Linked DNA regions of Homo sapiens: region 2 is linked to region 1. The links come from fine-mapping of genetic effects on gene expression. A gene starts in region 1. The other region holds a variant in brackets. All regions are shown on one strand. Distances are between the middles of the regions. Region 1 holds the start of RHOB (ras homolog family member B). Region 2 holds the start of LOC105373465 (a long non-coding RNA gene).

What was found. PIP is the estimated chance that this variant, and not a neighbour inherited with it, causes the effect. A credible set is the group of variants that fine-mapping cannot tell apart.
Region 2: its variant is the best candidate, but not a certain one, in a credible set for the expression of RHOB in whole blood (TOPMed, PIP 0.62).

What each region holds. Positions count from the first base shown.
Region 1 is chr2:20,445,154-20,450,153 of GRCh38, forward strand. It overlaps RHOB (ras homolog family member B), which reads left to right and starts at 1,921. Exons shown (of 1, transcript NM_004040.4): 1 at 1,921-4,287. The coding sequence starts at 2,313. The coding sequence ends at 2,903. RefSeq lists silencers at 1,630-1,879, 2,130-2,339.
Region 2 is chr2:20,421,437-20,426,952 of GRCh38, forward strand. It overlaps LOC105373465 (a long non-coding RNA gene), which reads right to left and starts at 3,509. Exons shown (of 5, transcript XR_001739317.2): 1 at 3,316-3,509; 2 at 1,392-3,103. RefSeq lists enhancers at 757-1,270, 3,404-3,563, 3,624-3,673. The variant G/T (reference allele first, on the strand shown) is at 3,402.

The sequences.
Region 1 (5,000 bases):
CGCCCAGGGATCACAGGCATGAGGTACTGTGCCCGGCCTGGTTAGATAATTGTTAAAGCGAAGTGTGGAACTGAGGTAAGAAACCCCCAGAAAATTCCACCTGCGTTTCTGAGCATTCGGGTTAATTCCCCACAGTCATTTACTGATCCTTGTAAATGCCAGGCATTGTGCTGGGTCTTCAAGATGCGGAGATAAGACAGAATCCTGGCCCTCCAACAACTGACAGAGACCGAGACAGAGACGGAGACAGGAGGCAACCACCTCCCGGTCATGTGGTGGGTCCCTCCTTTGCTGAAAAAACAGTTTGCAGACATTTCCCATGCAATGGATAGACAGAGCCCAGCCCATGCTGTTAATACTTTAGCACTCATGAGCCCCAGCATATGCAGCTCCTAGAGTTTGCCCCGCTCCTTCCCACCTTCCTGCTTGTGTTCAGGCTGTTTCTCCTGCCCGGGAGCCCTCCCCGACTCCCCTTTCCCCCTATCCCCTTCTTCCTCTTTTATCCGTAGAAATCGGTTGACTTGGGTCTTTCCGGATCACCGGTACTGTCATTTCATGCAGGATCTACAGGATAAATGAGTTCAGTCCTGGCGTGCATCAGGAGGCTACGCCCCAATAGAGGGGACACCCCCTAACCCGCTGTGCCCCATTTGCTAGCCCCTTACTCCTCCCCTCTTCTCCAGCCTCAAGCCTTTTCGTCTGCTCAGGGGTCTTGGGGTGGTTGGATTCTATTGAACCCGGAATATTGTACGTTCTATTGTACAATAGTGTATATTCTATTGTACATTCTATTGTACAATAGTGTATATTCTATTGTACATTCTATTGTACAATAGTGTATATTCTATTGTACATTCTATTGTACAATAGTGTATATTCTATTGTACATTCTATTGTACAATAGTGTATATTCTATTGTACATTCTATTGTACAAGTGTATATTCTATTGTACATTCTATTGTACAATAGTGTATATTCTATTGTACATTCTATTGTACAATAGTGTATATTCTATTGTACATTCTATTGTACAATAGTGTATATTCTATTGTACAATTTATCTCAGACAGTTCTCTGTTTTAAGAACCGGGATCAGAGTTCATAGTGAAAAGAGGGGCCGAAGGGGCTTCTTCCTGTCCGGTAACTTCCTCCAAGTGTTCGAGCCTCGACCTTCCCTTTCCGTTGTCAAGCTTGGGCCACTCCGCACCTCTTCCCTTAATCTTCACCTAGAGACCTAAGCTGGGGGTTGGGAAGGGTAGGGGCGGCGGGACTTGGAAGAGCCAGTTTGCAGCCAGCCGGTCGCCTCTCGGGTCCAAACCCGAGGCTGGCCCACGGCGAGTACCCGGGTGGGGCCCTAAACCACAGGAGGGGCCACCTCCAAAAGAAAAGAGAAAACACTCTTGTTTGGGAACAAAAGTGTGTGTGTGGGGTGTGTGTGTGTGTGTGTGTGTGTGTGTGTCTGTTTATTTAAAAACAAAACCACGTTAAAAGAGCTGCCCCTCCCCCACAGGCCCGACCACCCGCCGGGAGTTTGCCAGGAAGAGGGGCAATTCTGAATGGGAGTCGCCAACGCCCCACTGAGTGAAGCCTGTCTCGGAACCGCTCGCCCAGACCCTGGAGGCTCCAGACAGCCAGCTCCCGGACCCCGCGCGCAAACGCTGCGGCGAAGGAGGGGACCCGGGTACCGCCAGAGCCCCGCAGCGGCAGCAGCAGCGCGGACTCCCCGGTCGCTGCCTCTCCCAGCCCGGCGGCCTGGGCCGTCAATCAAGCTGGCCCTGCCCCGCCCTCGGGCTGCAGGGGGCGGCCAATCAGAGCTAAGCTCCGCAGCGATGAGCTCAGCCGGCTGGTTTCCCATTGGACGGCTATATTAAGAAAGTGGCCGGACTCTTTAAATAGCGGGCGCTAGGGCCGCAGCCCTCATCTGCCACCGCAGTCTGGTTGGAGCTGTTGTCTTGTATGCTCAGCGAGGCCCGGAGAGACCCGGGAGAGAGCTAGGCCGAGTCCACCGCCCGAGTCTGCTGCCCGAGCCCGCGTTACGCACAAAGCCGCCGATCCCCGGCCTGGGGTGAGCAGAGCGACCACCGCCCGGGAGCAGCGCGGCGAGACGCACGGTGCGCCCTATGCCCCCGCGCCCCCACCGCCCCCGCCGCGGCAGCCGAAGCGCAGCGAGAGAACGCGCCACCGCGGGGCCCGGGTGCAGCTAGCGACCCTCTCGCCACCTGCGCGCAGCCCGAGGTGAGCAGTGAGCGGCGAGCGGGAGGGCAGCGAGGCGTTCGCGGGCCCCCTCCTGCTGCCCGGGCCCGGCCCGCTCATGGCGGCCATCCGCAAGAAGCTGGTGGTGGTGGGCGACGGCGCGTGTGGCAAGACGTGCCTGCTGATCGTGTTCAGTAAGGACGAGTTCCCCGAGGTGTACGTGCCCACCGTCTTCGAGAACTATGTGGCCGACATTGAGGTGGACGGCAAGCAGGTGGAGCTGGCGCTGTGGGACACGGCGGGCCAGGAGGACTACGACCGCCTGCGGCCGCTCTCCTACCCGGACACCGACGTCATTCTCATGTGCTTCTCGGTGGACAGCCCGGACTCGCTGGAGAACATCCCCGAGAAGTGGGTCCCCGAGGTGAAGCACTTCTGTCCCAATGTGCCCATCATCCTGGTGGCCAACAAAAAAGACCTGCGCAGCGACGAGCATGTCCGCACAGAGCTGGCCCGCATGAAGCAGGAACCCGTGCGCACGGATGACGGCCGCGCCATGGCCGTGCGCATCCAAGCCTACGACTACCTCGAGTGCTCTGCCAAGACCAAGGAAGGCGTGCGCGAGGTCTTCGAGACGGCCACGCGCGCCGCGCTGCAGAAGCGCTACGGCTCCCAGAACGGCTGCATCAACTGCTGCAAGGTGCTATGAGGGCCGCGCCCGTCGCGCCTGCCCCTGCCGGCACGGCTCCCCCTCCTGGACCAGTCCCCCGCGAGCCCGGAGAAGGGGAGACCCGTGTCCCACAAGGACCCCACCGGCCTGCCTGGCATCTGTCTGCTGACGCCTCTGGCTTGCGCCAGGACTTGGCGTGGGCACCGGGCGCCCCCATCCCAGTGTCTGTGTGCGTCCAGCTGTGTTGCACAGGCCTGGGCTCCCCACTGAGTGCCAAGGGTCCCCTGAGCATGCTTTTCTGAAGAGCCGGGCCTCAGAGTGTGTGGCTGTGTGTCTGTTCGACTCCCCTCGCCCCATTTTCACCCCACCCCCGCCTCTGATCCCCGGGGGCGAGATTGGCGCGGGAGTGTGGCCGCGCCCCATCAGATGTTCGCCCTTCACCAGCGGGAGCTTGATATCCCTTGTCTGTAACATAGACCCCGGGTACTGCGGGAGGGGAGGGCTGCTGGGGAGGATGGGGGGATGTTATATAAATATAGATATAATTTTATTTTCGGAGCTAAGATGGTGTTATTTAAGGGTGGTGATGGGTGAGCGCTCTGGCCCAGGCTGGGCCAGACTCCCGCCCAAGCATGAACAGGACTTGACCATCTTTCCAACCCCTGGGGAAGACATTTGCAACTGACTTGGGGAGGACACAGCTTCAGCACAGCCTCTCCTGCGGGCCAGCCCGCTGCGAACCCTCCACCAGCTACCGGAGGGAGGAGGGAGGATGCGCTGTGGGGTTGTTTTTGCCATAAGCGAACTTTGTGCCTGTCCTAGAAGTGAAAATTGTTCAGTCCAAGAAACTGATGTTATTTGATTTATTTAAAGGCTAAAATTTGTTTTTTTATTCTTTGCACAATTGTTTCATTGTTTGACACTTAATGCACTCGTCATTTGCATACGACAGTAGCATTCTGACCACACTTGTACGCTGTAACCTCATCTACTTCTGATGTTTTTAAAAAATGACTTTTAACAAGGAGAGGGAAAAGAAACCCACTAAATTTTGCTTTGTTTCCTTGAAGAATGTGGCAACACTGTTTTGTGATTTTATTTGTGCAGGTCATGCACACAGTTTTGATAAAGGGCAGTAACAAGTATTGGGGCCTATTTTTTTTTTTTCCACAAGGCATTCTCTAAAGCTATGTGAAATTTTCTCTGCACCTCTGTACAGAGAATACACCTGCCCCTGTATATCCTTTTTTCCCCTCCCCTCCCTCCCAGTGGTACTTCTACTAAATTGTTGTCTTGTTTTTTATTTTTTAAATAAACTGACAAATGACAAAATGGTGAGCTTATGATGTTTACATAAAAGTTCTATAAGCTGTGTATACAGTTTTTTATGTAAAATATTAAAAGACTATGATGATGACATTTATAAAATGGCTCTTGTGGTTTAATAGTGTGTAAAAATACCCTTGTGAATTTGGAACAAGGGAGATATTCTCCTAGGCGAGATCCTTTCTTGCCAACTCCGTTTCCCTTATAGCAAATGTAGTAAATGAGGATGAAGTCCCTTTGAGAGCATGTGGGGGTTGGGTGACCAAGGGAGACCAGGTTGTTCCTGTCACATTCCTAGAGGAAGATGAGTGGATACCCCGACACCCAGTGCAAAAACTTTTGACCTATTATGTACTCAGTTCAATTGGGTGAGACCGAAGATCTTGATTTCATTCATCTGTGTGTCTTAAAAACACTTGTGTCTTTAAGTCTATTATGGGGCTTTGCTTATTCTTTGAGTCTTGGAAAGTTATCATTTGTGCATTTTAAATTTAGAAAACCTTTATTAATCGTTGGTGTGGGGTCACGCTATCAGGAAGCCTGTTTACTGGGTTCCCTTCAGGCCATCAAGGGGTTTACACAATATCCCAGGAAGTTGTAGGTTGTTATCTTTGGGCCTGGAGCTTCCAGAAGTGGGGGAGTTCAGATAAAGAGGTGATTTTTTAAAATTATCAAGCTTTGATCCCAATATGTCCTTTATTAAGTAACCTAGAATGATTTATTCTAAGTTCAGAGAAGGGCCATATTGTGGAAAGAACATTGGATGTTTTGGTGGTTCTTAAAGTTGGAGCTGCCACTTTTTGAGAGTCA
Region 2 (5,516 bases), 23 kb before region 1:
CAATGCTCCCTTGCCTTTAGAGCGGAAGTCCATCCCCATGAGCTGGAGGCAGTGAAAGGTCAACCCCCAAGTCCATGGGTAGTCCCTTGGCAGCTGGGCGGAAACCAGCGAAGAGGCTGATATTTTGGAATGGCCGACGGCTCTATGGGTCCCAGGAAGATGAGCTAATTTGCTCACAGCGGGGCCACCAGGTCTGCTGCTTGCCTCGGTGGCTTCAGATGCTCTTTGAGCAGGCTGTGGCTCCCAGAGCTGAATAGGAGTGTAGGACTCACTCCCTTGGATGGACTCACAGAGACTGAAGTGCAAGCCAGGTGCCATATGACGAATTCCCAGAGAAGTGGAGCTGCCCAAGGGAGGGCACATGCGCTCGGCCTCAGCGGCATTAGTATGCCTTGATGGGCTCCTCAGCTGTCCGTTTCTGTCCATAACCTGGACGTCAGTGTGACTCCTCTCCCCCACCTCCCTGTCTCCCTCCCTTCCTCCTTCCCTCACTTATCCCCCTCTCCCATCTCTCCATCCATCCTCCCCCTCCACCATCCCCAGGCCCAGTGGAGGGTGACAGCTCACAGCCTGGGTCCTCCGTATCCATGCTGTGTTCTTTGTGCCCCGCCCTCCATCCGGGAGCAGCACTAGAAGGAAGGTCCTCAGCTCTTTAGGGACATTCCTGTCCTGGAGCCAAGGCCAGCACTGGCAGGGGTCCACGAACCTTGGCTGACTAGTCCTGTGGTCAGCCTTACCCTGTGGAGGCACAGAGCCAGAGGCCCTTGCTTCTGACTGGCTGCATTCCCATTGCACATGTGGGAATTGGGAAAGGCCGGGGACCTGCTCAGGCTCGCCTGGATGGCACTTCCCCAGCTCTCTGATGGGTTGTGGGGACACGGCACTTCTGGTCCAGGGAAGTGGCCCAGGACTTCCCATATCTGGGGCACAATGCTCCCATCCCACACTGGAGAATCAAGATTGCACTGCACGGAGGAATTTTTAAAGAATTTTCCTAATATGGGAGTGAGACCTTGATCCATGATGGCTCCCAGATACTCAGAGGATAGAGCCAGCCCCTTGCTGTCAGCACCAACTTCCATCCTTAGAGCTGCCGCCTCTCCTAACCCCCCACTCAGAGTCCTGGCCCTGAGTCTGGCTTCCCCGGGCTGGGAGCCACGATGATCTCTGAAAACACCATCAGTGCTGGGAACTCAGAGGAGGTTTTGGGTGCTTTAGTTCCATGCATCTGCACCAGAGCTCCCTGGGCCCAGGCCCCACCTGATGGGCCCCATTCTCCCACAACATGGGGTCTTGGTTCTGAACCTGCCCTGGGGCTGGCCCCTGCCCCTAGCTGCCTCTTTCTGGTCCCCAGCCCTGCACAGGAAGGCCATCTGCATACCCGACCTTACCTATCATCCATCGGGAAGCTTTCCGATGCTACATGCTCACTGGTTTAAACTGTTGCTCCCCCCACAGCAGGCATCTCAGCCTCCAGCTGTTTGTCAGCTGCTTCACATGGCTTCCAGCTGCTGAGGCTGAAGAAAGCTGGAGGCTTCAGTGGATGCTTCTGCGGCAAAAAGCTTGCTGGGGAGAAGCAAGCAAGCACAAAAGAGCAAGTGCCTTCTCTCCTCCTGACCTCAGTCTCCTAGTGCCCCCTATTGGAAGAACCTGCCAGAACCAGCTGACCTGGGGACATGTAATTTGCACAGATCAAGCCCCAGTAGCGCCAACCTGACAAGTGGAGATCTGGAGCCGAGACTGAATAGCCAATGGACAGCACAACGCCCTGCCCTCCTTTCCTTGCTTGGCAAGCTCTTGCCCCTGCTCCAGGCCTTAGCTCAGGTGTCATTTCTTCCAGGCAGCTCTCTCTGGACCAGTTGTCCCACTGTGGCTTCCCACAGAGACATACACACGCTTCTATCCAGCACAGGATAGAAATGATCTCTTCATGCTTCTATCTCCCTTACTTGGCAATGAGCTTCTGGAGAAAAAGCGACTTTGTCTGTCAAGTTTTGTAATTCTCAGGGCTTACTGCATAGCTCTGTACATCTTTGTTGAGCCATAGCTCCTGCAGTTGTCAGCTCTCCCCGGAAGAAGGTTGAGGAGTAGGTGGAGCAGGATGGTTTTTCTTCAGGCTGTCTCTCATCCTGGGATTCCCAGGCACTGCCCCTTCATTCTCCGACAATAATAATGATTAACATTTGTTGAACCCCTGGCCGGCACCAGGCACAATTGTTCATACTTCCCATGTATCAACTCATTTAGTTTTCACAGATTTATGAACTGAGGTGCAGAGAAGTTAAGCGACTTGCCCAACGTTACACAGTGAGAAAATGGCAGAACCAGAACTTGAATCCAGGTAATCTGGGTTCCAGAGCCTGTGCCCTTAGCCCCTATGTTATTTTGTCCAAGGAGGATAGGAATCAGGAAAATGTGGCAAACTTATAATGCTGATGCCAACAATCAAAATAAGAAGCTTCCAGAAGAAGCTGCATAAGATAGTGTCTCACAGCCATGGGTGGACATGTGACACAATTCAGGGCCCTCCCTGTGGTTGTTCAAGTTGGTAGTGACAGAGCAGAGAAGCTCCTCTTAGGAGGTGAAGTTGGCTCCAGGCTTGCGGAAGAAGAGACTGACTTGCAGAGAGATGCAGGGGTGAGAGGGAATGACAGCGCCTCCTCTCCCTGCCCTGGGTCTTGGGCCTCTGAGCTGGTGAATCCCCCTTTTGCATTGCCTCATTTAATGTCAGTTTCTCACATTTGTGACTAAAGAGGCCTAACTAATACCAACTTATAATTTACAAAGTCCTGTCACAGGTCATTGATTCTTATGCCAGCATGAGGGGGCAGGCAGGGGGTCATATCCCCATTTCCAGAAGTGAAAACTGAGGCTTGGAACAGTTAAGTGACTTGCCAAGCAGCAAGTCAGTGGCAGAGCTGGCTGAGAAGCTGGTGCTTGGCCCCTCAGGCCAGGAGTCTGTCCTCTCCTCCGCCTTGTGCTCTCATGGGAGCTATGGAGAGGGGGTCTGGGTACCACCACCTGCCTCAGTACTCGTGGCTCGGAGCTTTGACCCGGCTGTGCTTCCTCTCATTCCTCTTGCTTTGTCTTGGGGCCTATGGGGCTGGGGGAAACAGGCACAGAGCTGGAGATGGCAGATTCTAGTACTACACACTCCACACCCCGACTTCCCATCCATGGAGCTCACAGGGAGAGGTTCCTGCAGCAGCTACAAGAACACCTCCCCCCCATACCAGCAACCAGGAAATCTCCCAGACAAACTGTGTACCCGGACTGTGGAGGCCACCCACCCCGCACCTCACCCACTCCTGGTACCTCCAGGGCCTGTAGGGAAGCTCCCCGCCCCCAAACCAGCTTTGGGGCTCTCTCTCTGGCCTGGGCCCCAGCTTCGTGGGGGAAGT[G/T]GGTGTAGCAGCCTCCTCTGGCCTGGGGGCTGGGAAACCTCAGGCACCTCTGCCTCCGCAGCTGGTAATCCAGCTTGGGCTTGCCAGAGGCCAGTCAGCTCCTCTTCTGAATCTGGATTAGAATCTTCTCGACCCTGGCAGGAAGAGCAGGAGGCCTGCGGTTGGAGGGCATTTCCTGTTTACTGCTGGTGTCAGTGTTGGTCTGAGAGGTCCACCCTTCTGTGGTTAAGTGAGCCCGGACATCTCCCACCCTCCCTTCAGGCCGACTCACATCCCTCGCCTGGTCCTTGTGAGAAGGTCTCTGCTTCCTCTGGTTCAGGGGAGCAGGTTACCATCTCTGGGTTTGCTCTCCTCCCCTTGCCTGGGCTGAAATGAGTCTTTCTAATGACAGCAGCAGTGGCCTGCCCTGTTGCCAAATTTAGCAAAAAAAAAGAAGAAGAAAGAAAAAAGAGAAAAAGGATGCAGGTTAAATTTGAATTTCAGATAAATAGCAAATAATGTTTTAGTGTTAGTAGTTCCTGTGTATTATCTGCGGATCCTAAATGAAGCTGGAGCCCAGGGAGATGAAGTGTCTTTTGGGATCTGATGATGAGCAACACAGGATTCCAGCCACTCAGCCGAAGACTCTATGCCCCCAACAGTCTGCCAGCCAGTCAAGCTTGGCCACTGTGGCTGGCTGTGTCTATCCTGCTGTGACTCCTGTCCTGTGATCATAGGTGTTCCCCCTGTAGGTTGTGAGATGGGGAGATAATGATTTAACCCCACCTCAAAGAGAGGCAGACACTCCCAAGCAGTGATTTTCAAAGTTTGGTCACACAGCAGCAGCAGCAGCAGCAGCAGCAGCATCCGTGATAATTAATTTTATGAGTCAACCTGACTGGGCGATGGGGTGCCTGGATATCTGGCCAAATGTTATTCTAGGTGTCTCTGTGAAGATGTTTCTGGATGATGTTAACATGATGTTAACTTTTTTTTTTTTTTAAAGACAGCTCACTGCAACCTCCACTTCCCAGGTTCAAGCGATTCTCGCGCTTCAGCCTGCTGAGTAGCTGGGACTACAGACACACACTACCATGCTCAGCTAATTTTTTGTATTTTTAGTAGAGAAGGGTTTCACCATGTTACCCAGGCTGGTCTTGAACTCCTGGCCTCAGGCAGCCTGCCTCCTCAGCCTTCCAAAGTGCTAGGATCATAGGCGTGAGCCACCACATCTGGCTGATGTTAACATTTGAAATGTCAGGCTGAATAAAAATTGTCCTCCCCAGTGTGGGTGGGCGCCATCCAATCAGTTGAAGGCCTGAATAGAACAAAGGGCTGACCCTGCCACAAGTAAGGGAGAATGCCTCCTGCTTGACTGCTTTTGAGCTGGGACATCATTTTTTTTTTAAGTTCTCAGACTCAAACTGAAACATTAGCTCCTCCTAGGTCTTCAGCCTGCAGACTTCTAGACTGGAACTACACCAGTAACTCTCCTGGGTCTCCATCTTCCTGACTACAGATTTAGGATTTGTCAGCCTCCATAATTGTGAGCCAATTTTTTTCTGGAAAGCCTGGCTTTCCAAAGAAATATATATATGCTTATCTTTGAGACAAGGTCTCACGCTGTTGCCCAGGATAGAGTGCAGTGGTGCCATCATGGCTCACCACAACCTTGACTTTCTGGGCTTAGGTGATTCTCTCACCTCAGCCTCCTGAGTGGCTGGGCCTATGCCCAGCTATGCCCAGATAATTTTTGTATATTTTTTTGTAGAGATGGGGTTTTGCCATGTTGTCCAGGCTGGTCTTAAACTCCTGGGCTCAAGTGATCCTCCCACCTCGGCCTCCCAAAGTGCTGGGATTACAGGCATGAAGCACTGCACTGAGCCCAATTTCTTATAAATAATCTTTTTACACACACACACACACACACACACATACACACACACACACACACATGCATCTATTGGTTCTGCTTCTCTGGTGATGCTGACCACAGCATCACCTTGGACCTTGTGAGAAAAGTGCATTTTCTTGGGCCCTGATCAGACCTACTGGATCAGAAACCCTGGGAGCGAGGCTCAGAATCTGAGTTTGGGAAAACCCTGCAGGTGATTCTGCTAAGAGTTAAGTTTGCTG